Linked DNA regions of Homo sapiens. The protein of the gene in region 6 interacts with the protein of the main gene of each other region in a pairwise test. Each region holds a gene or a part of one and is shown on either strand. Other genes may lie near its edges. The genes, in order: SAXO1, CNNM1, CTTNBP2NL, NUDT10, SAPCD1, HSF2BP and KIAA0408.

The links.
Region 1: the proteins of HSF2BP (region 6) and SAXO1 interact in binary tests that used the Homo sapiens proteins (3 or more experiments, as listed by UniProt).
Region 2: the proteins of HSF2BP (region 6) and CNNM1 interact in binary tests that used the Homo sapiens proteins (3 or more experiments, as listed by UniProt).
Region 3: the proteins of HSF2BP (region 6) and CTTNBP2NL interact in binary tests that used the Homo sapiens proteins (3 or more experiments, as listed by UniProt).
Region 4: the proteins of HSF2BP (region 6) and NUDT10 interact in binary tests that used the Homo sapiens proteins (3 or more experiments, as listed by UniProt).
Region 5: the proteins of HSF2BP (region 6) and SAPCD1 interact in binary tests that used the Homo sapiens proteins (3 or more experiments, as listed by UniProt).
Region 7: the proteins of HSF2BP (region 6) and KIAA0408 interact in binary tests that used the Homo sapiens proteins (3 or more experiments, as listed by UniProt).

What each region holds. Positions count from the first base shown.
Region 1 is NC_000009.12:18,946,210-18,949,709, forward strand, and holds part of SAXO1 (stabilizer of axonemal microtubules 1), read right to left. Parts: intron 1,499-3,500; exon of another isoform or gene 1,368-1,498; coding exon of another isoform or gene 1,336-1,367; intron 1-1,335. UniProt on the Homo sapiens protein: May play a role in the regulation of cilium length. Stabilizes microtubules at low temperature.
Region 2 is NC_000010.11:99,363,856-99,367,355, reverse strand, and holds part of CNNM1 (metal transporter CNNM1), read right to left. Parts: intron 2,940-3,500; coding exon 2,840-2,939; intron 2,402-2,839; coding exon 2,354-2,401; intron 1-2,353. UniProt on the Homo sapiens protein: Probable metal transporter.
Region 3 is NC_000001.11:112,448,214-112,451,713, forward strand, and holds part of CTTNBP2NL (CTTNBP2 N-terminal-like protein), read left to right. Parts: intron 1-728; coding exon 729-959; intron 960-3,500. UniProt on the Homo sapiens protein: Regulates lamellipodial actin dynamics in a CTTN-dependent manner. Associates with core striatin-interacting phosphatase and kinase (STRIPAK) complex to form CTTNBP2NL-STRIPAK complexes.
Region 4 is NC_000023.11:51,331,553-51,335,621, reverse strand, and holds the start of NUDT10 (diphosphoinositol polyphosphate phosphohydrolase 3-alpha), read right to left. Parts: upstream 2,801-4,069; 5' UTR 2,657-2,800; coding exon 2,163-2,656; intron 1-2,162. UniProt on the Homo sapiens protein: Cleaves a beta-phosphate from the diphosphate groups in PP-InsP5 (diphosphoinositol pentakisphosphate), suggesting that it may play a role in signal transduction.
Region 5 is NC_000006.12:31,761,430-31,765,350, reverse strand, and holds SAPCD1 (suppressor APC domain-containing protein 1), read right to left. Parts: upstream 2,696-3,921; 5' UTR 2,297-2,695; coding exon 2,183-2,296; intron 1,937-2,182; coding exon 1,796-1,936; intron 1,288-1,795; coding exon 1,192-1,287; exon of another isoform or gene 1,086-1,191; coding exon 996-1,085; exon of another isoform or gene 916-995; coding exon 820-915; 3' UTR 501-819; downstream 1-500. Other genes in the region: MSH5 (mutS protein homolog 5), read right to left, coding at 2,820-2,931, 3,166-3,239, 3,396-3,533, 3,736-3,879.
Region 6 is NC_000021.9:43,628,489-43,631,988, reverse strand, and holds part of HSF2BP (heat shock factor 2-binding protein), read left to right. Parts: intron 1-1,534; coding exon 1,535-1,667; intron 1,668-3,500. UniProt on the Homo sapiens protein: Meiotic recombination factor component of recombination bridges involved in meiotic double-strand break repair.
Region 7 is NC_000006.12:127,445,890-127,449,389, forward strand, and holds part of KIAA0408 (uncharacterized protein KIAA0408), read right to left. Parts: intron 1,852-3,500; coding exon 519-1,851; intron 1-518.

The DNA.
Region 1 (3,500 bases), on a different chromosome or scaffold from region 6:
AAGTTGCGGTGAGCCGAGATCGTGCCACTGCTCTCCAGCCTGGGCAACAAGAGCAAAACTTCATCTCACCAAAAAAAAAAAAAAAAAAAAAAAAAAGAGGACCAAGTTTGAAGCAACCACGGATGCTGCAAAATGAGGAAAGAAACCTGGAAATGAGAGAGTCAAAGACAGGAAGCCCTAAATTCTGTACATAAACTGGGCCCAAATCTCTGCATAACCTCACATATATGGGGTAGATTCCAAGCTAAAGAACTGAAGTGAGATTTGAGCGGCCACCCAAGACACAGAGTTTGCATTGTAAATCAAATCAGGTTACCTGCCTGCCAAAGATAAAAACACTTTTTAGAGGAATGCAAACAAACATCTAAGGTGTCCACAATGTAGCAACATTCTCACTGTACAAAAATCAACCCAAAATCTGACCCATGCTCAAAAAAGAAAAAAAAAAGATAATTATGGAGACCAACTCCAAGCAGACCAGACATTGGAATTAGCAGATAAGGATTTTAAAGTAGCTTTTTAAACCATGCTCATTAAGGAAAGCAAAGTAAGGCCATAATGAATTAAAGGATAGGAAATTAGGTAAAATAAATAGAAACTATATAAAACAAGAATCAAATGCAAATTCTGAAACTGCAAAATATGTGAAGTAGAACATTCACTGGATGGCCTTAATCACAAAATGGAGATAAGGGAGAAAAACTTGAAGTTGAAACTAGGTTAATAGAAACTATCCAATCTGAAGAACAGAGGACGGGGAGAAAAGATTGGGGAAAAGAAGTGAACAGAGCATCCGTGAAAGAAAAATTACTTGAAGAAATAATGGCCAAAATGTCTACAAATTTACTCAGAAATACAGTATAGACAATTCAAAGGCTCTGAGATTGCCCAAGCAAGTCCAGTGCCGAGAACTCTACCTACATTGTGTTCACACTAATTCTCAGGCCCAGGCTATGGAGGCTAAGTATATGCCCAGTGGTACAGCTCTGAGTAAGAGAGTCAGGTGTCTCTTTGAACAAAAAATATATATATAAAATTCAATGGGCAGTGCAAGACTCAAGCCTGCTACTAACTCTCTTGTTTCTTTCCTGACCTTTGGGGAGGATACTAAATGCCCTTTCTCTCTTAGCTCTTCCCTCCCTTACTCTCCTTGGTTTACCAAGGAGTCTTGCAAATAAGTGATAGAGTCGATGCTACCAATTCCCTGCCGTCTGCCTTTCAGCCACACCCATCAAGTCTGAACTCAATTCTATCTCCTCACTCTGTGCCTCCATTCCACTCTACCCATGGTCCCACTCCCTTTAGGATAAACGTCTAACACCATTGAAGACTCACCTCTTTCTTCTGATGCTGCTCATTTTGCCCATCTTTAGCGAGCTGGTTTAGCTAACAGAATGTCTCAAATTGGGATCCAAGTGTTTTACATGGTGACATGCCTATGGGGAAATGAGGCTGGAAGTGCAAACCTCTTATTCATAAATTGATCTCAGGTCTATCTGAAGTAAAGGCAGATTCTACACCAGAGAATTACCAAGGGCTGCAAGAAAGAGTTTCACACTAAGAATGGCTGGAAATCACAAGCATTCCCCTCATGGCACCTGCTGTAAATCCCCAAGATTTATGGTCAGTAAGAGTTGTGTGCAGTTATAATCATGCCTCACGCTGGGATGATAACCTTTCCAGAAACCAGGTGTTTTTTTGTGTCTGGGCTTAATCACCAAACCCAGCAAAGCCCTGGACCACGTGACTTTTTCATTCAGCAGGTGGGAGCCTCATGTCCAACCTCAGAAACTAAGCAGGGTCACTGTTTAGATAAAGAAGTGGGTGGGATGTTCCAGTAATAAGAGTGCTAAGAGCAGAGGGGTGACGACAATCTGCACAGACACAAGGGTGTGCAGACACTGGGCTGTGCAGACACTGGGCTGACGCATCCCTTCCCCTGTAAGCCTCTAGGGGAACACCCAGATGGTAGCTTCCCTACATTTCCTGACAGTGGCATAATTTTGTTCTCGGTCTATGAACAGTAGTGCCTATCATGGCAGGCACAGGGTTGAGAAATAATGAAATTGTGGTAGAAAAGAGAACACAGATGTCTTCTACTCATTTCCCCTTTACTTCTCTTTTTAGGGTAGGAAATAAAAAGAGATTCATATCTGCTCCTTTTCCTCCCTGTGGACAACCTTGATCCTGCCACTTTTTCTTTTTAAGGCCCTTATGTTCATTAACAGCTTATTTTGGAAATTCTTGCAGAATCTGCTTTCCTCTACTTTAGCCACATTTGATGTACATGGTATTTATTGTTACTCTGACTCCGGCAGGGGCAGAGGGGCCTTCTGGGTGATATGTTTATTGTTTTAAGTGACACAAGGCAAGGATAATTTAGGACAGGTCAGAGGGTAAGTTTTTGTTTAGCGAAGCACCATCAGGAGGAGGGAGGGTACCTGGAGTTGCATCTGGGGGCCTCAGAGCTAGGTGTTGGGGCAGGTCTTCCGCCCCAGACCAAGGGTTTGTCCCCATTCTCCTAAGCTTTGGGCAGCTAACAAAGCAACCTGCAACAACCAACCTTCAAAGCATCCCTGTCTATACTTTCAGGATAGGAAATATATCAGTGTCTGAAGCCAACTAGACATCTCACAAAGTCTTCTTCATTTCCTGCAAATTGGATATAAAGAGATAAAAAGACCCACACCTGGAGACCGAACAAGATATTTGCAAGCCACCCCTCAGTACTACTCTCACCCTTTCCTACCGATTACATGTCCCTTATACATGTGCCTAGGACTCTTACTTGGTGTTGACCAGGGTTTCCTAAAACAAAAGCAATGCTCAGAAATGGTTCACACTTCTTATTATGGTCTTTAGACTCTCAGAGACAAAGAATACTGTTTTCCCAGCAAAATGAAGCCCAAACTTTAGTGTTCATATTGTTTAATAAGTCATAGGTTGAAAAAACAGCAGCATAAACTACAATGTTTTAATACATCAGGACACACAAACACTGCACTTAAACCAAATCATTTAAGATACATGCTTAGAATAAATATAATCATCTGGCCTTAGCAATATAGCAAAACCTTGTCTCTACAAAAAGTTTAAAAATTAGTTGGGCATGGTGGTCCATGCCTGTAGTCCCAGCTACTAGGAGACTGAGGGGCAAGGATCACTTGAGCCCAGAAATTCGAGGCTGCACTGAGCGATGATCACACCATTGCACTCCAGCCATGGCTACAGAAGGAAACCTTGTTTTAAAAAAAAAATTTTTTTTAAGTGGCCTGATTCAAGTCAAGCATCAGACAAGGCCCTCAACTCCCTCTCATTCTCAAGCCCCTGTCCAGTGGTTTCCACTAAGCTCAGGAATCCTTTGGCCTCATTTCTCCCATTGTGGGTGCTCCTGCCCCATTACCCAGACTGGACTTCCCGTGGATCTAGAAGATGGCAGCATTGTGTAGAGAAGAGCACCTCCAACTCACAGTCTCAGATGTTTCCAGTCCTATTCTGGA
Region 2 (3,500 bases), on a different chromosome or scaffold from region 6:
ACTTTGAAGCATAGGTCATCGTGCCAGTATTCCAGCAAACTCATAATCTCACTCCTCATCCTCAAAGGCTGATTAAGCTAGCTTCAAGCATAGGGGGACGGGGCTGGGCCAAGACCCTACAAGATTTTATTGCCTTTTAGCTTAGACTTAAGCTCTCCCTCAACCTATAGGTTGAGGTTCTTGGCCAGTGAAAGATGCTGGGTGGCTGGACCATGGGCTGAGCATTCACCCGGGATAACTGTGGGGTATGGCTGGCCTTTGCAGTTACTTCACACTTCACTACACTAAGTATGGGTTCGGGGAGGATGGAAAATGTCTTTTTACCCCATTGGCTAATAATATTTCTTTTTCCTTCTGAAGATTTACAGAGATGCTCAGTAACATGGGGAGAGAAAGAGAAAGAGTGCTATGTTTCTTTTCAGTTAACTAGTTTTAAAGGAGAAATCAATGTTGCAACTTTATTTCTATCTCACTGATGCAACTGAAAGCTTTTGAAAGAAAGAACTAGAAACAGGAAGGAAGGAAAGGAAGAAATCAGATAACATCTTCCTTCTACTTAAAACAATTTTTTTTTTGAGATGGAATCTTGCTCTGTAGCCAGGCTGGAGTACGGTGGCATGATCTTGGCTCACTGCAACCTCCACCTCCCAAGTTCAAGTGATTCACCTGCCTCAGCCTCCCTAGTAGCTGGGATCAAAGGCACGTGCTACCATGCCTGGCTAATTTTTGTATTTTTAGTAGAGACAAGGTTTCACCATGTTGGCCAGGATGGTCTCGATCTCCTGACCATGTGATCCACCCGTCCTGGCCTCCCAAAGTGCTGGGATTACAGGTGAGAGCCACCATGCCCGGCCACAGCAATTTCTTTTTTTTTTTTTTTAAGAAAGAAGGTCATATAAATTGGGTGGGCTAGGAAGCCATATGTAGGTCTTTTTTTCTCAGAATTTCCACCTCTTTTAGTCTTCTGGAAGAGATCACAGACATTTCTAGGTAACATATTAGAATCCCAGGAGTAGTCCCTAATGTGATGGATGATGGAGATTTCCTTTAGAGAACTAAGGTTTGCCAAAGTCCTGTAGCCCGTCCCTCACCCATCCAGAGTTCTACTGAACACTAATGCTTCCTTCATCAACCTTGATTGAGATTCATTGTCTTAAGTATAATAATGTACCAGGGTCTTTTCAATTTTACAGATCTCCTCCAACTCAAGTTCTGCCACTCTTCACACTGGGCAGGTACTTCATTTCAACCACTGGCTGGGCTATTACACTGTAACAATTACACTGTAAATTGTTCCACTATTTCCACTTAGAAATTGCATTCCAGAATATGATGGATCTGAAATCTGTATTTTATTGTGCTGTGTGAACTAGCCAGGACACCAGGAAGCATCTTGGCCGGTCACCAACTTACTGGGTGATTTGAAGCAAGTCATTTCCTTAGTTTCACTCATGTTAAAATGGTATCTACCTTGCCATGTTCCAGGGACTATGATATCAAGCTCTGGGACCCTCTGATAATTCCCACCACAAGGCAATATGTAAAATCTTTTTTTATGATGAGAGGAAAGACCCTATTTGGCATTGAAGTGGTCACTGTAAACACTAACAGCTGAAAGCAATGCAAAATTCAGAACTGTGAATCAGAAAGAAATCTAGAGAAATAATTCTTTCTGTATCACACTTTTAATCACAAAAAATGCCATGCCCTTTAAGCACAAGTGCAATAACTACACAGAAAACAGCAAGAAGGCACAGCACAGAAAGGGCAGAGCAAACCAGCCATCAGCCCTGTGCCTGCCCCCCACCAACAGCATGCACAGCCAGCTGGCAGATACCTCTCCACTAGCTGAGAGGTGGAGAACCAAGAAAGAGAGGCAGATAAGCAACGTATTGCACAAAGGTGGAACTTACATCCCCAAATCTTGCAGTCACTTCTTACTGAGGACAAACCCCACAGACACAATAATAGCATATGACAGTGTTTGAGTAAAGGCCATGGGTGAATTGTTATTGCACAGAAGGAAGGGCTGAGCCTCTGCCCAAGCACACAAATCACCTGCCTGCATTCACTGGAAGGTGGCAATAAGCAGTGCCTTCCCTCACAACCCCTGCATCCCCCCAACCATGTGAGCAGAGAAGCAGCAGAAAACATTCCAGACACACAGAACCTAAGCTCCCATGGTCTGTGGGTACCTGGCAGGAAGCAGTGTTCCTGGCAGAACATTACAAAGGGGCTGCCAGCATTTGTCTTAGCCCCAGCCCAGGCTCAAAGTGCTCGGTCCAGGTCCCCAGAGCGGGCTGAGGCAGGACTACGATGGGGAGGACGAGGAAGGGGTTTGAGAGATACATACGAAAGACAGAAGATCCAGCCAGACTTCCAACCTTCCGCACGTCATTATCTAAGGACAGAAGCATGCAGTGGGTTTCAGAGGCAACTCAGAAAACACACTTCTTATGGGAATCTTCCCTCTTCTATCCACCCCCAGCACCAATTAACCCTGTAAAAACCAGGCAATTAAATGGAAGGGTAGGGAACAAGTATAAAAAGCAAAATAAACTTGTCTTTTCATACTGAAATCTACCACCCTAGATCCCTAACACTTGACAATATTACTGCTTTTTACAATTCAATTTTTTGTCACTTTTTTTTTAAGCACTAACTGAATGAAAAGTGATTCATACACCCATTTTGCAGAGGAAGGAACTAAAGCCAAGGAAGTTAAATGGCTTGTCCAGGCTGATTAACAAGAGTCAAAGGGGGAGTCAAGACTTGAACCCCTGTGCTTTTTCTACCATATCCCATTACTTTCCCAATAAACAAATGGAAACTAGAATACCTGAGCAAGCAGTGGTCATGATGGCTGGGACGCCATAGTAAGTAAAGGCTCCATTTTCAAAGCGAAGGCCTTCCTTACCAACCTCCACCTCCACTTTACCCTGGAAAAAAAAAAAAGGAAGTGTACTATGAATGTGTATGAGCACTTCCAGTTCTACTATTGACTCGAATCCTAAGCATTTCTGCTTGGATAACAAGTGGACTAGACCCATGTTCTTATCACAGAGGAATGTTAATTCTCTCCAGATTTACATGTGAGAAAGCACCACCAGCTTTAATAGCTCTTTGCAGTAAATTCAGTGCTTCGTTGTTCATAAAATAGCATCCAGTCATGAATAACCAAGCTGTCCTTGCATACTGTAGTGGCCCTTCCATGATGCAGGCCTAAGCACCAGCTAATCCAGGGCCTCATAAACTGCCCCACTGGTTTAGTCCAAGATTGGACCATTTCTAAGTCAGGTCAAGATAAAATCTAGGCCGAGTGCGGTGGCTCACACCTGTAATCCCAGCACTTTGGGAGGCCAAGGTGGGTGGATCACGAAGTCAGGAGTTTGAGACTAGCCTGGCCAATATGGTGAAACCCCATCTCTACTAAACATACAAAAATTAGCTGGGTGTGGTGGTGCATGCCTGTAGTCCTAGCTACTCAGGAGACTGAGGCA
Region 3 (3,500 bases), on a different chromosome or scaffold from region 6:
ACAAGAAGAGGGGGTGGAATTTGGCAGCAGGTGGAAGAGGTTTTGTCTGCATGTCTGGTTATGAGGTGCCTCCATCCTCCTTGACCCATCAACAACTGAGTAATGGTTCATATGTACAGGTCACAAGTAGTCCTAGATTGTAATGTGATCCTGCTTATATTTTGCACACTTTATATATCTGCTGGCATTTTGTTAGGTCTCTAAATATATAAACTCATAAAATTATCATACTTAACATGTTTTAGAAATGCTAGTACCATAACACGGAAAAAAATAAGATGTACCTGCTGGTAATATAAGCATTCATAAGCAGATATAAGCAGAGTCAGTAAGCACAGAGGTTAAGGACACAGACTTCGGGGCCAGGTTGCCTGGGTTTAAATCCCAATTCAGACAGCTTGCTAGATGAGTAACCAGGAATAGTTTTCTCATCAGCAAAATCGAGATGATAGCACTACCTTACAGGGTTGTAAATTTTAAACAAGTTAATCTGACTATAAATATTTAAAACAATGTCTAATACATAGTGCTTTATAAGTATTTGTTCTTGTTAATATACCATGCCACCTTTCTAATGCTGTTTCTTTAGATGGCTCAATCTGACTTGTAATTAGTAGGTTACATTTATACTAATACCACAACCTTTAATGTATAACCACTGGATAGCAAATCCCCCTTCCTCAGTAGTTTTAAAAAGCAAGATGCTTATTTTTTTTCCTCTTTCCCAGGCCCAACACAGAGATACTTTCATTGAAGAACGCTATGGAAAATATAACATCAGTGATCCTTTAATGGCTCTACAGAGAGATTTTGAAACACTGAAGGAGAAAAATGATGGCGAAAAGCAGCCAGTCTGCACAAATCCACTCTCTATTCTTAAGGTTGTGATGAAGCAGTGCAAGAACATGCAGGAGCGCATGCTGTCCCAGCTGGCTGCTGCTGAGAGCAGGCACCGAAAGGTAGGTTCACCTCAGTTGATGTGTAAATCTTTGTGAAGTCTTTATAAATTATGCCTGATACTTTCTTGTCAGCTGCCAGTTTTTCACAGTAATTCAATTGGGACATCTCACGGGTATCAAAAAGCCCCTTAGTTTATGTAAGAGCCAGGAGATAAAAAAGAAAACACAGCTTATTGCAAATGTTAAGTTTAGAGAACGTGCCAGACACGTTATTTAAGACAGCATTTCTTCTTGATATGTCACTCCAAAACACTTTGTATGTTTTTTCAGTTCTTGATCATTCAAACTTTGGGGTTTGGCCAAGCTTGTAGCTGACGGGAGTGTTCTCTATTTGCTTACTTAAGAGATAAATAAAAAGATTAACAGGTATTTGAGGCATGCTATATCCAAGGGAGAGAAAGAATTTACCTGAGGATAAACACAGAAGCCAATAGATTATTTTCATTTATTCCTATTATTCCTAGTTTTGAGTTTCATTGCATTTTGTTGCTCATGAAACCATAAACAGTCCCTTGGTTTATTTACCTTAAAGGTGTTCTACTCTATTAGTGAGGGGTGTGTGTGTGTGTGTGTGTGTGTGTTTTCCATATTTAACAAGCCCTAAAATAGGAAGGCAAACCTTATGGTTATTTACAGTATTTACTTTAAAGCTGTTCTACCCTATTAGTAAAGAGTGTGTGTGTGTGTTTCCATTTCTAACAAGCCCTAAGAAGGCAAACCTGTGCTTTCCTCTGCTTCATCTTACTGGAATTCTAGTGCTTGTGAATTTATTCACCAACTTGTCATCTTGTCATTTACTCCTCAAATTTGGCCTGTAAAAGATGCTTGGCTACAATCTTCATTTTTAAAACACTGTCAGTTTAGATTTATGCCAACAAGGCAGTTATCAGTGCATTTGGTAGGAAACATTTTCATCTGAAAAATAGGGTTAGCAGCTGCAAAATTTGGTGGACCTTACTTTTATGGTTATCAGCATTAGAGCCATCTTCTTAAATTGCATCTGATACATTTTCTAGGCTCTGGATCTTGCCCGTGATCTTTTCTTTCCCTTCACAGAAGCCAAATGAAAGGCCAGAGTGGAACTTCTTAACCATGGATAGGCCTCAGATGTTCCACAGTCCCCCAGAAAATAGACAGAATGTTCAGAGTTTATGCATTTTTGTAGGAAATGTATTTTTTCCATAGCTTTAATCAGATTCTCCAAGTTACCCAAGACCCAAAAATGTTTAACCTCTGGTTAGAATGAAGTAATCTGAAAACATTTACACTCCAATTTAAAAGGTATCAGTGGGTGGGAGTTAGTTGCCTAAATTGGGTGGAGGGGGAGCTTTTACATAATTCTCTAAAAATCTTCACAACATTCTTGTTTAATAGGCAGGCTTTATTTCCACTTCATCCATGAGGTGACTGAGTTGTGTTGAAGCTAGTTGGGCTAGCTTTCATGCCCATGGAAGGTGTACTAGGGACAGTTTGTGTTTCTAGGTGATTGGAGAGAGGAAGAAGTTAAAAATAATTCAAAATTTCTTAATACTATATTGCAGTGCTAAATGTTTTAAGTGAATATTAAATTTTTGAAACAAAGTACCTATCTATTCTTTTTTTTTTTTTTTTTGAGGTGAAGTCTCACTCTGTCACCCAGGCTGGAGTGCAGTGGTACAATCTTGGCTCACTGCAACCACCACCTCCCAGGTTCAAGTTTAAGTGGTTTATCAAAGTAGAAGACTGACTTTGTTAGAAATCAAACAGTACCTAGAGGCTTATAATTAGGGTGCTCATAGTCTCAGCTTATGCCTGTCACCTTGGCTTAGTTATTAACCATATTCCCTTTGACTGTCAGAAATGTTCTGGTTTGAATAATAAATTACATGGTCATTGTGCTTACAATGAAAAACAGTTTTCTATTCCACCTCTTCTCATTCCCCATCCTCCCCAGTATTCACAGGCAACCAGTTTTTTCTTTTAGCCATTCACTTTGGTAGCTAACCTCCATATTTCTAAATACTGCACTGTTCTCTCTTGCTTTATCAATTTTAGACATTTATATTACTTTCTTTTATATAGGTGCAGATTTAGTTATCTTACACCCCGCCTCCCTTTCCTCTCCTTAACCCTTACCCAGAACAAATTTAATCCTCTTTTCCCACCACCATTCTCTGTCACATCTACTATTCCCAAATCCTGAGCCTGTCACACTATTTCTTGAATGTGACAGGCTCAGGATTTGGGAATAGTAGATGTGACAGAGGCCAGATGCTGATGGTCTGTGTGCAGGAATCAGGGTGAAGGGACAAATAATTCTGAAAATACAGGCTTTGAAGGCCAGACACAGTGACTCATGCCTGTAATCCCAGCACTTTGGGAGGCCAAGACAGGCAGATCACTTGAGGTCAGGAGTTCGAGGCCAGGCCAGCCAACATGGTGAAACCCCATCTCTGCTAAAAATACAAAAATTAGCCAGGCATGGTGGCGTTCCTGTAATCCCAGCTACTCGGGAGGCTGAGGCAGAAGAATAGCTTGAGCCCAGGAGGTGGAGGTTGCAGT
Region 4 (4,069 bases), on a different chromosome or scaffold from region 6:
GTTGCTGTTTCTTTACAAGCTCTTACACATACACACTTCAATTTTTATCAATTTTCTACAGGACTTAAAAATATTTATGGCCACCTTTCACCCCTTTCAGGGTTACTTCTTTCAAAGGTGACCTGATCAACAGAACATAGGTTTCTTAGAAAATATGTTAACCATCCAGAGCAAATTCTGTATCAAGCAACCAAACTTACCTTTACTCCAACATGTCGTCTTCAAATTTTTTTTAGAATAAGAAAAAGTAGGCACTTGTCCATTGGGGGACAGGGACGAGGGGGAAAATCAGTCTTTTTTTTTTTTTTTTTTTTTTGAGACGGTCGCCCAGGCTGGAGTGCAGTGGCACGATCTCGGCTCGCTGCAACCTCCGCCTCCCGGGATCAAGCGATTCTCCTACCTCAGCCTCCCGAGTAGCTGGGATTACAGGCGCACACCACGATGCCCAGCTAGTTTTTGTATTTTTAGTAGAGACGGGGTTTCACCATGCTGGCCAGGCTGATCTTGATCTCCTAACCTCGTTATCTGCCCGCCTCGGCCTTCCAAAGTGCTGGGATTACAGGCGTGAGCCACCGCGCCCGGTCCCCCAGCCCCCACCCATACTCTCTTCAAAAACTAGACATTTCCTCAACTGTCATGGGAGATGAAATCCAGAAGAGGAACCTAGAATTTACATAGCGAAACCCAAAATTTCTTAATAGAAAGTGCGTAACAGTGACCCATAGAACAAGACTCCATCTCAAAAAAAAAAGTTAAGGGACCCCAATACCTGTCAATAATGTTTAAGAGATATGACATAGTCTAGGTTGCTCTAGAAATTAGGAATGATCTTTTCATTCGAATACCCTCTTCACAAAATAGGTTTTCCTTCTACCTAATGTCAGACATGGCTGGGGGAACAGCGGAAGGTCCAGAAGAGAGATTTAGCTATTCTAGATGGGATTCCTGACTTCAAGCAAGTACTGAGGCAAACGTGAGAGCTTTTAATTTGGCACCCAGAAAAGGTGGTACTGTGAGACAAAACAATTACTCTCTATCATTGAGAGATTGTTCAGGAATCCTAATAGTTTGACAATTCTGTACCAGCTGAACATCGCTAGAGCTAACTCTGTTGGGATGTAATCACCACAAAAGATTCCATTCCTGTGGTTACTGGGAGTCAGGGAGGTTAAGCGGAATGTCACTACATTCAAATATGGAATGGAAACCACTTTCTTTCAAAAACAAACTTAAATCCAGAGAACCATGGTTCTTCTATGGTATCCAGTAAGGGGCAATGGGAGTTGGAAGTTGAGTATGGGAAATCAAATTCTGTGAATACAGTTTTTCTGATCAGATGCGTTTGGCTAGCAGATCCCCAGCAGCATCTATTCAGTAAGGTTAATCTACATGGGAAATAGCGATTTAAAGTCAGCAGTGAAAAATTACTTGTGAAAATTTTTTGAAAACCAAATGACCTACATAGAAATAGAAAAAGAAATTTCTGAAAGGGGCAAATGAGATACCACTTCAGAGGCTAGAGCGACTGTCGAGTGCAGAAAGAGCACAAGATGTAGGATTTCCTAATGTTTTTACGAATTCAAAACTGATTTTTTAAACCAACTCCCACCACAGAAGGCCTCCCTGACAACAAGGGCGAACGCTGTGAAGGAGAAAACAACTCAAGGGAAAAAAATACTAAAAGATGCCACACAACCAAGCTGGTCAGACTTTAAAGGCCTCCACTACCAAACAAACCACAAGGCTGGTATCAAAAATGTGCACGCACCCACGAATATGTGTGAAATATAAAAGAACCAAAAACATCACAGGGCGCACAGGCAGACACACACACTCCCCGCCCACCCCTCGCCCCCCACCCCCCCCCCCCCCGCCCAAAAGCAGGGTGAACAGTTACAGCACCTAAAACCCCAAGCGGCATAGGCTTCTCCGAAACATTTTACAGGGTAACCAAGAAGCGATTTTGAAAGCAACTGAAAAACGTGCCAACTGAAAACAGGGCCTGGCAACAGTTTGCAAGCGTGATTCAGAGGGTCTGCCAAGGAAACAAAAGCCTCCCTCCTGCCCATGAGACCGCACATGGTACGAGAGGTGCTCCAGGCGGGATGCATTTTAAGCAAGGCAGACAAACAGAAGTCTGTGCGGGCGCAAGCGGTACATACTAGGGATCGCTATCTGGCGAGGATGGGGCCATGGAGTTTCCATTGGTTGGGGAACCGCCCAGCTTTAGTTTCTCCAGATATTCGGCGTGCACGGGCTTGTGGCACTGGAGAACCTTGATGGCATCTTCGACTTTGAACCACTCTCGCTTCCTCCCAATGCTAACCGAATCTTCCCAATCCTCCAGCAGCTCCGTGACAGTCAGTACATACACGTACGTTCTGTGCTTGGGGTCCTGGTTCTGTTCGAAGACGCCCAGGAGCCGGCCTAACTTCCCCTTGACTCCCGCCTCTTCGTACACCTCTCGGACCGCCGCACCGCCCGGCTCCTCCTCGGGCTCCATGCCCCCGCCCGGCACGATCCAGCGGTCCGGGTACCGGCTGCTACTCACTAACAGGACCTCGTCCTCGCGCTCGCTCCGGAAGCACAGGCACGCCGCCCGCTTCTTGAACCCCTCGGGGTCGTAGGTCCGTGTCTGGTTGGGTTTGCACTTCATCCTCGAGGCAGCCTCCTCTCGCCTCTCGCTGCTGTGTGGGCCGCCGACGCAGCTGCTGCCGCTGCCGGGCAGCAGCCGAGGTGCTGGGAAGAGAAAGGGCCGAGGAGAGGGGCGGGGAGAGAGAGGCGCCTCCGTCTGCCGTCTGCCCCCGAGCCCGGGGAGCGGAGGGAGAGATGAAGCTGGGCGGGGCACGGGCGGAGGCGGGGGCAAGCGAGGCGTGTCAGTCAGCCAGTCCGCCAGTCCGATGGGCGGCCGGCCGAACCCGGGCCCGCCGGAGTGGAGGAGGCGCTGCTGCCCGCGAGCCCGCGACTCTCCACAGAGCCCACCCGCTTCTGCGAGGTGAAGCGCATTCTCGGGCGCGTCCGCGCTCCCGTTCACGTGCGCGTTCGCAGGGGAGGGCGTGGGCTGAGGGGCGAGGAACCGGGGCGAGGGGCCAGGGGCGGGGGTCTCCTGGCTCCCGCAGCGCGCAACGCCTGGGGCCCACTGCGCAGGCGCTTCGCACTCCTGGGGCCAGGAACCTCCTTGGCGCACAGCGAAATTCACCGCATTGTGACTTTGGCCAAGACTGCCTCCATGTGTGCCTTTGACCCAAACTCACTGTGGCACGGCAGGACGTTTCTCCTCTCACTCCCCACTGCGCTGCAGGAAACCCACAGGCAGTTGTTTCACACAAGACAGGGGCAAAGGCAGCGTCGTCATCATCCTCCCCCACTATCAACCATTCTGGCTTACTCATGGGACCTGGGCCCTAGTGTTGTCTGCACAACCCACGGGATTCTTGGCACAGTAGCCGGGCATCTTTGCTGAGTCACATGATGCAGTTTTATTTCTTCAACAGGTTCCCACCTTGCAGAGCATCTTGGCGCAGCCAGTAATTTAACGCTTTTCTTAAACCCCTGTTCACAACCTGCCTGACCTCCCTGCACCTCAGTTTCCTCATGGGTACACTCCTCGCCTCCGTGTTGCAGCCATTTGCACTTCGATGCAGTACACCTTAAAGACCAGAGCACCACCCATCTAGTAGTCCTGCGTTAAAGCCCAGAGACGTTCTCCTATTCTCCACACACTCCACCCTTCTCTATCTTTCTCTTTGATAAGCACCACTTGGTGTTTGGGAAACCATGCACATGGAGATCCCGTCCTATTTCACAATTTTATTTTATTTTATTTTTTGAGATGGAGTCTCACTCTGTCGCTCTGTCGCCCAGGCTGGAGTGCCGTGGCACGATCTTAGCTCACTGCAACCTTCGCCTCCTGGGTTCAAGCGATCCTCCTGCCTCAGCCTCCTGAGTAGCTGGGATTACAGGCGGGTGCCATCACGCCTGGCTAATTTTTGTAGCTTTAGAAGAGACGGGTTTCACCATGTTGGTCAGGCTGCTCTTGAACTCCTAACCTCGCGATCCGCCCACCTCG
Region 5 (3,921 bases), on a different chromosome or scaffold from region 6:
TCTCCTGCCTCAGCCTCCCAAGTAGCTGGGATCACAGGTGCCCGCCACCACGCCCGGCTAATTTTTTGTATTTTTAGTAGAGACAGGGTTTCACTATGTTGGCCAGGCTGGTCTCAAACTCCTGACCTCAGGTGATCTGCCTGCCTCGGCCTCCCAAAGTGCTGGGATTACAGGCGTGAGCCACCGTGCCCAGCCAATGAAGGTTTTCTTTCTCCATCACATCCCTTTCCTTTCTTAGAAACTTCGAGACTGGGGCTGGGTGCAGTGGCTCACGCCTGTAATCCCAGCACTCTGGGAGGCTGAGGCAGGAGGATCACTTGAGCCCAGGAGGTTGAGGCTGCAGTGAGTTGTGGTCGAACCACTGCACTACAGCCTGAGCGACAGTGAGACCCTATCTCAGAAACAAAACAAAACAAAACACCCTGCAAGACTGGGATAGAGGGCAATGGATATTCCCACAATGCACTTTTCCTAACCCTATGAGAAACAAACCAAAGACATTTTTGGAGAAAGCTGCTTTCTGGAGCAGTTTCAGTTTTATTTTTGTATTTAAGGCTGAAGGACAGTTTCAATAAACATGCTTCTTCCCAGAGGGATTTCAAAGAAAGATCGTTTTTGCATGTCATATAGGGGAGAATGAGGACATGAGACACCAAGAAGATGAAGTTTTCAGGAGCAGAGGAGAAACTTTACACCAACATGTCTGAACTTCATTGACTCACTACCTGGAGCCATTTTTTAGCTGTTGAGTTAAGAAACAGAAAAAGGAGCCTGGGGCTTCTGACTCTTTCACCAGGCTTAGGGGAGTGAGAGGAGGGTTTAGACACGGGTAGGGCCTCTTGGCCCCTTGGTGCAGCCCCGCTGAGCCATCTCCTCCTTTGGCTGGGTGACTCCTTTCTGCTGCCTTGACAACTCCTGGAGGAGAAACAGATGGGGCCTCTGGGCTCCTCCCAGCCCTGTAGGGTGGGGCTCCTGCCCTCCTTCTTGAAGTTTACCTGTTGCTGCCACAAGTTCTGCTCCCTTCGTCTTTCCTTTGAATCCTGGGTGGTGCAGGAACTAGCCTTGTTCAGTGGACTTGGGGAGAACTGGAGGGGAAATTCGCTGTGTTTTCTGTTAAGCCAGCACTGACCCCAACAACTCCCCTCTCTAGTCCAACTTCCCAAAAGTCTAAACTGAAAACAATAAACTCACCTTCTCATGAATCAGATTCTGCAAACAGATGTTCACCTTTTGAATCTGGGCTAACGGGGGGCGACCAGGCTCTGAGTGTAAATCTGTTAGAAAATTCTAGAGGAGGAGTTGGAGGCTGACAACATGGTGAAAACCTGAGGTCGTCTGCCACTCTATTCCTGTCACCACAGGCCATCCCTCTCATCTGGATCCCCTCGTCCCAGTACCCTCCCAGGCAGGTGGGAAAATCCAGTACTCTCCACCTCCATCTCTTTAGCACATCAGTTCCTCCATCTCCCTCAAATAGCACAATACCCCCTTTCACTACTCTTCATGGAGCCTCCCTGTCCATCCCTGCCCCATTGGAATAATCCAGGCCACACCCTCATCTCCATGGAGTGATCCAAATCCCTCTGAATGGAATGCAGACCAGCTTCCTCCAGCCCCAACAATGAACACCAACTTAACACTTGGTGGCATCCTGTCATTACGATGCTGCCTCCAACTCATGATCCCTGACCATTAACTCTCCCCTCTCCAGAGTGGTCTCAGGCTGTGTCTACACATTCCCTGTTCCTCCCTCCCTGGTCCTCCCCCCATTCACACAGAGGGGCAGCCCCCATACCTCACCAAGGGCCCCTAGATGCAGCTGCTGTCGCTGTGCCTCCCTCAGATGGTCTTCAAACCAGGCCTGGCCATGCTGTAGCAGCTCCAGACCCTGCCACAGGGCATCCTGTTCTCTCTCCAGAGCCTGCATCCTGCGTAGCTGGGAAAGGCAATCACAGAGGCTGACTCTCACGCCACAGTAGGGCTCTGGGTTATGGCCCTTTCTCTCCACCCCTAGTTGGGTTCACTGTGTGGTCACTGAGTGTGAACCCAGACTGGCCACTGAGGACCTGGAGGGCAAGGGGAGGCAGGCGGGAACACTGTGGGCCCTCAAGTTGAATGGAAATATAAAGGGCAGATCTATTGAGAGAGTTCCCCTGGGACCTCTTGTTGGGCTGATACTCACCCAAAGGAAGAAGCTCTGGGCCCCTGGGTCTTGGCGGCTTGTCCCCAGCGGCAGCAGCAGGACTGTGTAGGGAGCCTGCACCAAGGGCACCCCGCCAGAGCCCTGGCTCCCCATGGCTCTGAGGTGGGAAGGGTGGAGCCACTCCCACTGGTGCAGCCCGGGCTGGTCCCTCCCCTCCACCCCTGCCTTGCACCCATCCTGCCTCTGTCAGCCTCTCAGGCCCCTTCCTGCTGTGTCTGTCTGAGGCTGGGGTGTTCCTACTTGAGAAGAGAGACCATCTCCCTTGGACCCCTCTGTCTTCCCTCTAATCTGTTTTGTAGGGCCTCTCTGAAGGGGTTCGTTCTCATGAAGTATCCTGGGGTAGAATCCGGGAGTCTTCCTACAGCAACAACACTGTATTTTTACTGAGGCAGGGCAGGTTCCCCTGTGGACTCCTGCTCTGTGTTTTGGATCTTTCCTAGTCTCTTGTTTTGAGACTAAAGAAACAATATCTTTCTTCAAAATAAACTTTATTCCTAATATGAAACAAAATTTCTAGAGAAACTAAAAACTCTGCGTCTGAGGGAGATAAGGAAACAAAGAGGGCATGGCAGCCCACCGGAGTCTCAGGAGGCTGGGGAGGACACTGGAAGGACTCTCAGAGGATGCTGGTGGCAGCAGGCAGCACTTCCTGGCTCATGAAAACGTTCAAGTCCAGGTTAGGATCTTCCAAATCCAGTTTCATAAACTTATCCACTAATGTCTGGCAACTGAAGAAGAGAGAAAATCGCAAGATTTATGGCAGAATGGACAACCAAATCCCTGGGCAGAGGGGAGAGGCTGTGGCACAGAAAACCTGGGATCTTGAAGATTTAGGGATTTCAGAAAGAAATGGTGGGTTTCTGAAGGGCAAAGTGCTGGAGGAAGGCTGAGTCCCTGAAAAGGGGAGAAGAGTTGCAGGAGAAGATGCAGAGAGGGTAAAGACACTGGGGCCATATACGCACTTTTCCATTTGGTTCTTCTTTAGCAAATCCTTGACAGGCTTGATGGGTTTTCCACTGCGGATCAAGTCTGAGACCTAGGAACAAGCAAGAAGGTGGGAGGAGTAAGGGGAGTGGGGAAGAGAAGGGGAAATAAGGGTCAGAAATCCTGTGGACCTAGACCCAGGCCCAGTAGGACTAGGAATGAAAGGGAGCTCTGATGTGGAGGTGGTTGCACATTTGGATCTCATCACCTCCTTGCCACGAGCCACAAGCTTGTCAGGAAGCCCAGCCTGGGCAGCTGTGTGGGAGGCATGGCTGGCCTTCGCAACACCTTCGCAAACCTGATAGAAGAAGACAAGATCGTTGCCATCCTCACAGGTCTCCATGGTCTTAAAAGAGAATAAAAGACAGTGTATCATCAATCACCTCCTTCCTGTCCTGAAACCCTTGGCCAATCCTGTGGGGAGGGAGAAAAGGGAAGGGATGTGGTCTCTGTGCTGAGGGAGCCCTTGTTCTGATAGAGGAGCCAATCCCCACCTCTGGGAAATGCCCAGCCTGGGGGTCCCCGAGGAGCTAGATTGGTCTCCTCACCAAATACTGCACCAGGGGCCCTTGTGGCAGCAGTTGTAGCTGAACAAGGCTCAGAAAGTTGGTGGCCACAAAGATGTGGGGGCATGTGGGTCCACGTGCCAGCCAGTGTCGGAGCACAGCGGCCAGAAGCGCGAGCCCATCCACCTGCAAAGAGGGCAGAGGTTAGCATTCGGAGCCATGGGGACC
Region 6 (3,500 bases):
GTGTGGGGAGCGTGTGTGGGGGGGGAGTGTGTGTGCCTGTGAGCCTGTGTATGTGGGATCGTGTGTGTGGGAGCGTGTGGGTGTGTGGGAGCATGTGTGTGTGTGGGAGCGTGCACACGCACATGTATGCATGCGTGCAGGCATTTGTCAGGGAACTTCACAGAAGGGGATAAATTTGAAATGGGCCTTGATGAATAGGTAGAAATGGCAGAAAATGGGTGGGTTTGTTTTAGGACAGTGAGTAGGTCAGTTGACACAGTGGAGAGTTAATGTCATAGAGTAGTGGGGAGGTAAAGCTTAAACGTAGGTTGGGATGTGACTTTGGGACCTTGAATACCAGGTTGGTGATTCATTCTGTAGGTGGGAAGACTGGATTTTCCCTAAGGGTTTTTCAATAAAAGTGATAGGATAAGAGCAGAATTTTAGAAAGATTCACCTGACAGTGGGTGAGGATGGATTAGGAGGTGGAGTTGTGGCACATCGCGTCTACACAGGATGACTGATGAGGTGGTCATTCTAGCTGGTCTGGCTGGAGTGAGCTCGGCCCTCTGCAGGGGAGATGGGAAAGAAGGAACATGTATGAGAGCTGTGGCAGTTGAGGCAGATGCGATGGCCGGGCAGAGTGGGCACCTGGAGGGGACAAGAGGAGCCAAAAAAGATCGGTGTTTGACTCTGGGAGCATGGCGTGATCATGACTGGAAATGAAGGTGAAGAGGGGGACGTGTGGCAGGAAACCAGTGAGAAATTAGTTACTGCTAATAGAAATAACAGTTGTGTTTGACTTTAGGTGGAAAGACTAAATGTGTTTTTAAAAGTTTGTTGAGCTTTATTAGGTTTAATTTACATACTGTAAGATTGTAAATGTACAATTTAGTGGTTTTTAGCAAATTTTTAGAGTTGCATTAACCATCACCACAACCCAGTTTTAGATTATTTGATCATCCATGAAGTTTTCTTATATCATTTGTAAATGCAAATATTTCCAATTTTTTAACTGGGTTAAAATGTACATTGGTTTTAAAATTCTTCTTCAGAACTCTAGCACCCCAAAGGAAGTAACTCAAAGGTTCAAACTTGGAAATGCTTTTTGCCAAGTGATGAAGATTTAAACTACCAGAGGAGCCAGTCTTTACCTCTTTTACATGTTTTCATTAAGATTTTTTTTTTTGAAAAAAGTTATGCTAAAGGTTTGAACACCTCTGGTTTAATGCCCAGAGCAAATAGGCAGCATGTTTTTCTAGTATATTTTTATTACATTTTGAGTGAATTCTTCCCATTTACTTTCATCATCATGTACATTTGTCCTATATCATATTTATGCGTGTGAAGAGTCCACCAATCTTCAGGGTAGTTTTTGTTGCTCCTGCATGCCTCAAGCTGCTTTCTCTGTTCTTTTAATGGGAACTTTTAATGAGGGAATAGATTTTACAATATTCTACAATTAAAACTAGAATCTTCTGTATCCTGCACTTTTAAAATGTTTTCACACTAGTGTCTGTAAAAAGATATGACACTCTGATTTTCAAACTTTCAGGATAAAGCTTTGAAGTTTTTCAGCATCACTGGTCAAACAATGGAGAGTTTTGTGAAGTCGTTAGACGGTGATGTCCAGGAGCTGGATTCGGATGAAAGTCAGTTTGTTTTCGCTCTGGCTGGAATTGTCACGAGTAAGTGCAGGCGCACCTGAGAGATGTTGCCTGTTTGCTTCCAGACCACTGCAGTAAAGCAAATACTGCAATAATACATGAGTCACATGAATGTTTTTGGTTTCCCAGTGCATATACAAATTATGTTTACACTATACTGTAGTCTGTTGTATGTACAATAGCATTATGTCTAAAAAATGTACAAACTTTAATTAGAAAATTCATTATTGCTAAAAATGCTAATGATCATCTGAGCCTTCAGCAAGTTACAATTTTTTGCTGGTAGAGGGTCTTGCCGTGATATTGATGACTGCTAACTGATCAGGGTGGTAGTTACTGAAGGTTGGGGTGGCTGTGCCAATTTCTTAAAATAAGGAACAATGAAGTTTGCCACATTGATTAATTCTTCCTTTCATGTAAGATTTCTCAGTAGCATGTGATGCTGTTTGATAGCATTTTTTCCACAGTAGAACATCTTTCAAAATTGGAGTCAGCCCTCTCAAACCTTACTGCTGCTTTGTCAACTAAGTTTATGTAATATTCTGAATCTCTTGTTCTTATTTCAACAATGTCTTAGCATCTTCACCAAGAGTAGATTCCATCTCAAGAAACCACTTTCTTTGTTCTTCCATAAGAAGCAACTTATCCTTTTTTTCTGCCACCACGTCTGTAGTTACTTACTCCACTGAAGTCATGAACCCTTCAAAGTCATCCATGAGGATTGAAATCAACTTCTTCCGAACTCCTGTTAATGTTGTTATTTTGACCTCCTCCCATGAATCATGAATATTCTCTTGTTGCCCAGGCTGGAGTGCAACGGCGTGATCTCGGCTCACTGCAGCCTCCACATCCTGTATTTAAGTGATTCTCCTGCCTCAGCCTCCCAAGTAGCTGGGATTACAGGCATGCGCCACCATGCCCAGCTAATTTTGTATTTTTAGTAGAGATGGGGTTTCTCCATGTTGGCCAGGCTGGTCTTGAACTCCTGACCTCAGGTGATCTGCCCACCTCAGCCTCCCAAAGTGCTGGGATTATAGGCATGAGCCACTGCGCTTGGCTGAATCATGAATATTCTTAATGGCATCTAGAATGGTGAATCCTTTTTAGAAGGTTTTCAGTTTACTTCACCCAGATCCATCAGAGGAATCACTGTCTATGGCAGCTGTAGCGTTATGAAATGTAGTTCTTAAAAAAAATAGGACTTGAAAGTTGAAATTTCTTTTTGATATATGAGCTGAAGAATAGGTATTGTATTAGCAGGCATGGAGTCAACATTACTTTCCTTGTACCTCTCCATCATGGCTCTTGATTGACCAGGTGCATTGTCAATGAACAGTAGTGTTTTGAAAGAAATCTTTTTTTCTGAGCAGTAGGTCTCAACAGTGGGCTGAAAATATTCAGTAAACCATGCTGGAAACAGGTGTGCTGTCATCCAGGCTTTGTTTTTCTATTTCTAGAGCATAGGCAAGAGTAGATTTAGCATAATTCTTAAGGGCTCTAGGATTTTCAGAATGGTTAAATGAGCATTGGCTTCAATTAAAGTCACCCGCACCATTGGCCCCTAACAAGAGAGTCAGCCTGTCTTTTGATGCTTTGAAGCCAGGCATTGACTTTTCTCTAGCGGTGAAAGTCCTAGATGGCGTCTTCTTCCAATAGAAAGCGACTTTGTCTACATTGAAAATCTCTTGTTTAGTGTAACCACCCTCGGCAGTGATCTTAGCTAGATCTTCTGGATAACTTGCTGCAGCTTCTCCATCAGCACTTGCTGCTGCACGTTGTTTTTATGTTATGGAGACAACTTCTTTCCTTAAACCTCATGAAGCAACCTGTACTAGCTTCCAGCTTTTCTTCTGC
Region 7 (3,500 bases), on a different chromosome or scaffold from region 6:
AAGGACTCTATTAGGCACTGTTTTAAATGATGTGTATTTCCCATATTCATATTAATGTGATTAATCCTATGAGAAAGAACATGAGTCAAATGCTGAGAATGACTGAACCAATCATAGTTAATAACTGAAAAATGAAAACGATTTTAAAAATATTTTCCATACACTTAAAAAAGAACCTTTAAAATAATGAAATTCTATAAATTGAGTAATGTCCATTCTGAGTATTTTTTCAAGAAAGAGCAAACATTTGATCTTCTTCAGGTTCCTAAATCCACTTACTGTATTTATGTTATCCCATTTCAGAATTTTTCAAAAGTTACAATGTACTATTCTCAGTGTTAAAAACTACACCTTCAAGGTTCATGTTGAGTTATATTTATTTACAAACAGGGTCAAGAGGCTAAGAAGAGTCCAAAACTTGTGCCCTCATTCTATTTATATGAATTGGACATATAAACATGATTCAGAGCCATTGCTAATATGGATGCTACCAAATTATGTTATATTTGCTTTCTCACCTCTGTTATCTTTTTCGGATCTATTCCTTGCTTCACTTCCTGTCCCCCCCACACAGCTGTCTTTTGCTGAAACTGTTGTTCCATTTGGAGCATTTCTAAATGCTGACTTAATGTGGCACCACCACTGACATCAGAATTACATTTGGTCCAATTATCCTGGAAGCACTTAGAATTTTGCAATGCAGACTCTGTTGCTGTCTCATAGGTTTTCAGCAGCTTTTCCACAACACCATAATTTGACCTGGGATCAGCTGACCTCGGACGGCCAGACAAATTACTCGGTCTCCAGTCATGCTCGTGGAGCATATTTCGATAACTGCGAGGACTTAGGTGTCCCTGCATTTGTCTTACTAGGCCTGTTGTGGATTTCTTGGTGGGATTATCAGGCACATTTTCCATGGGCACAGGCATGTGGGCATTGGTTTTCCAAATACCGGACACATCGTTACTTTGTGATATGCTACCTGTGTGAGTAGATGAGGTATCACAGGGCTTGAGATCCTCCGATGATTTTGAGCAGCTGTGATTTTGCTGTATTGCCTGACAATTTCTATCTGTTCTAAATACAGTTCTGTTAAATTCATCAGTCTTTGCTGCCAGCTTCTCATTCCTTGTAGTCCTTTCAAAGCCACAACTGAAATTTCTAAGTGGGCTACTGCTCTCTGCTACTGAGGAGCTACAGTCATTACTTACATGAAGATCAGGATGAGATTTAGCAGGGTGATCTGGGATCACCATTTCATATTTTGGATTACTGGGGGTAGAGCAGGTTTTCTGAAACCACGAAGTAGAGGGGCTCCTTTTTGCACCTATCCCAATGTCACATGACCACATGCTAAGTCCAACATCTTCATTACTTGGAGGCTTGCTATCTATTTTGACTTCTGGTACCAAAGAGGAAAAGATGATACCATCTTTCGAAGTTTTCCCTTCATTTGGATACAACATAGACATCTCTTGTTGTCTCAAAGGGAAGTGAGGGTTGTAATTCCTTTTACTTCGACCCTCATGGGGCACCCAGCTGTTGTGGTCTAACCTTTCCTTCCATCTTTCATAGGCTTGTTCAGAATCCGAGCTGGGAAAATTTCGAGAGGTGCTTCTTGGAGGAGGAACTGGTGGAGTTTCATTTCTTTTTAAATCGATTGTATCAATTCCACATTTTTTCGTAGAATTGCTCTGGAGCACATTGGTACAGCTCAGATTCTTCCTGTTTTTCTGTTTTTCTTTTTCTAAACTGATTGGAAGAATGCACTGGTCATTGTTGATCATGGGGTCCCCATGAGGTATATTAGTTACATTTGGCATTTCCTGGAGAAAAGAATCTGACTTCATCCTAAACAATGATAAAACATGGTGTATTGGTTATAACTTTATTTAGAATAAGCTCTCAAAAGCAAACATAGCTAAAGCAATGAGTTTCTGCTATAAGAAAAGGATTCACAACTGCCTCATACATCATTTTTACATAAATCTCCCAGTCAAAAACTTCAAGTCCTTTTATGGTGGAATGAAGTCTACCTCTCAGTGTTATATTCAATGCTCTACACACTCTGACTCAAACTCTTTCCAAACTTGTCTCTCATTTTCACTATTACCTGAGACTTCACCTACCCTCAGATTAAACTATGTAGTCTCCTGGGTTTCTGCTACTGGCATTTCTCTCTCTGTAGCTTTTATCTTGCCATTCCCTTACCTTCTCTCTGCCTGCTGAATTCTTATTCATTATGTAATGTGAGCTCAAGTTCTTCTCCTTGAATTTGAAATAACATTTTAAGTAGTCAGATACAAATCTGAATAAAAGTGCAATGAGATATGAGTAATTCCAAATGGAAAGTGTCATTTGGTCTTGAAAAAAAGTAAAAATTTTTTGGATGACTTGAGTAAAAGGCATATAGGATTGAAGTAAAAGGCAAAAGGATTAAATACTATGGCTACTCGAAGGAAAATGAGTACTTTGATATGGATTAATTATAAAGCAGAGTGGGGAGGATAATGAAAAATGAGAGAGAAACATTAGGTTATGTCAAATTGTAATGTCTTTGAATTACAAATATCTTGAACCTTGTTCTAAAGTCCATGGGGTGACAATAAGAACATTATATTAGGTGTGATTTGTAAAAGAAAATTGGCAAGTAAGTCTTTTCTGAGTTATATTAAATAAAAAACTAAATATCGCAATTCAAACTTAATCACACTGATAAATATAAATCATATTTATACCTCTTCAAATTATAAAAGATTATGGGATAGCTTACAATAAAATGTGGATAAATACCTATTAACAGAGAATAGAAAAGCTAAATAGGCAAATAGAGGACAAAGTTATGTTTAAAACATGATTGGCTAAGAAAATCTATTGCAAGTCAGCACAAAAATTCTTTCTGAGCTTCCTAACAACTAATGAAAAATAAGGGAATGTAGGAAGCCTACTGACCCACGAGGAGAGATAAATGTTGATCCTAGAATAATCCATCTTTACTAAACTTGTAGAGAATTCCAATATATTTGTTAATTTGGCTAAAACTTACTGTTATTAAGTATATACTGTTTCCAAATGGAAACAGCATTTTTTGTGGCACGCGTACATGTGTACATATTTACAATATGTTGTTCTGAAAAGTATGTAGGCCTCCATTACATAAACACGAATTGAAGCAAAATAAAGTGCTCTTAAGCATTAAATATTTTAGTAGAACATGATTATATAAGCAAAACGCCACACTGTTAATTCTGACATCGTTTAATGATACGTTTAACTGAATTAGCCCAGTTGTACACTTTCATTGTCCAAATGCTCAGAATGAGAAAGAACTACTTTAGAGGTTACTTACTGATTTTTTATGGAGGGTCTACCTTAATTAGACACGAAAAAGAGTAAAGTATTACTAATAGATTACAAAGAGAATTGGAAGATTTGCTTTAAGAATTAGTGAACAGAGAAATATACAATTACAGTTTCTGGCCTGGCGTGGTGGCTCACGC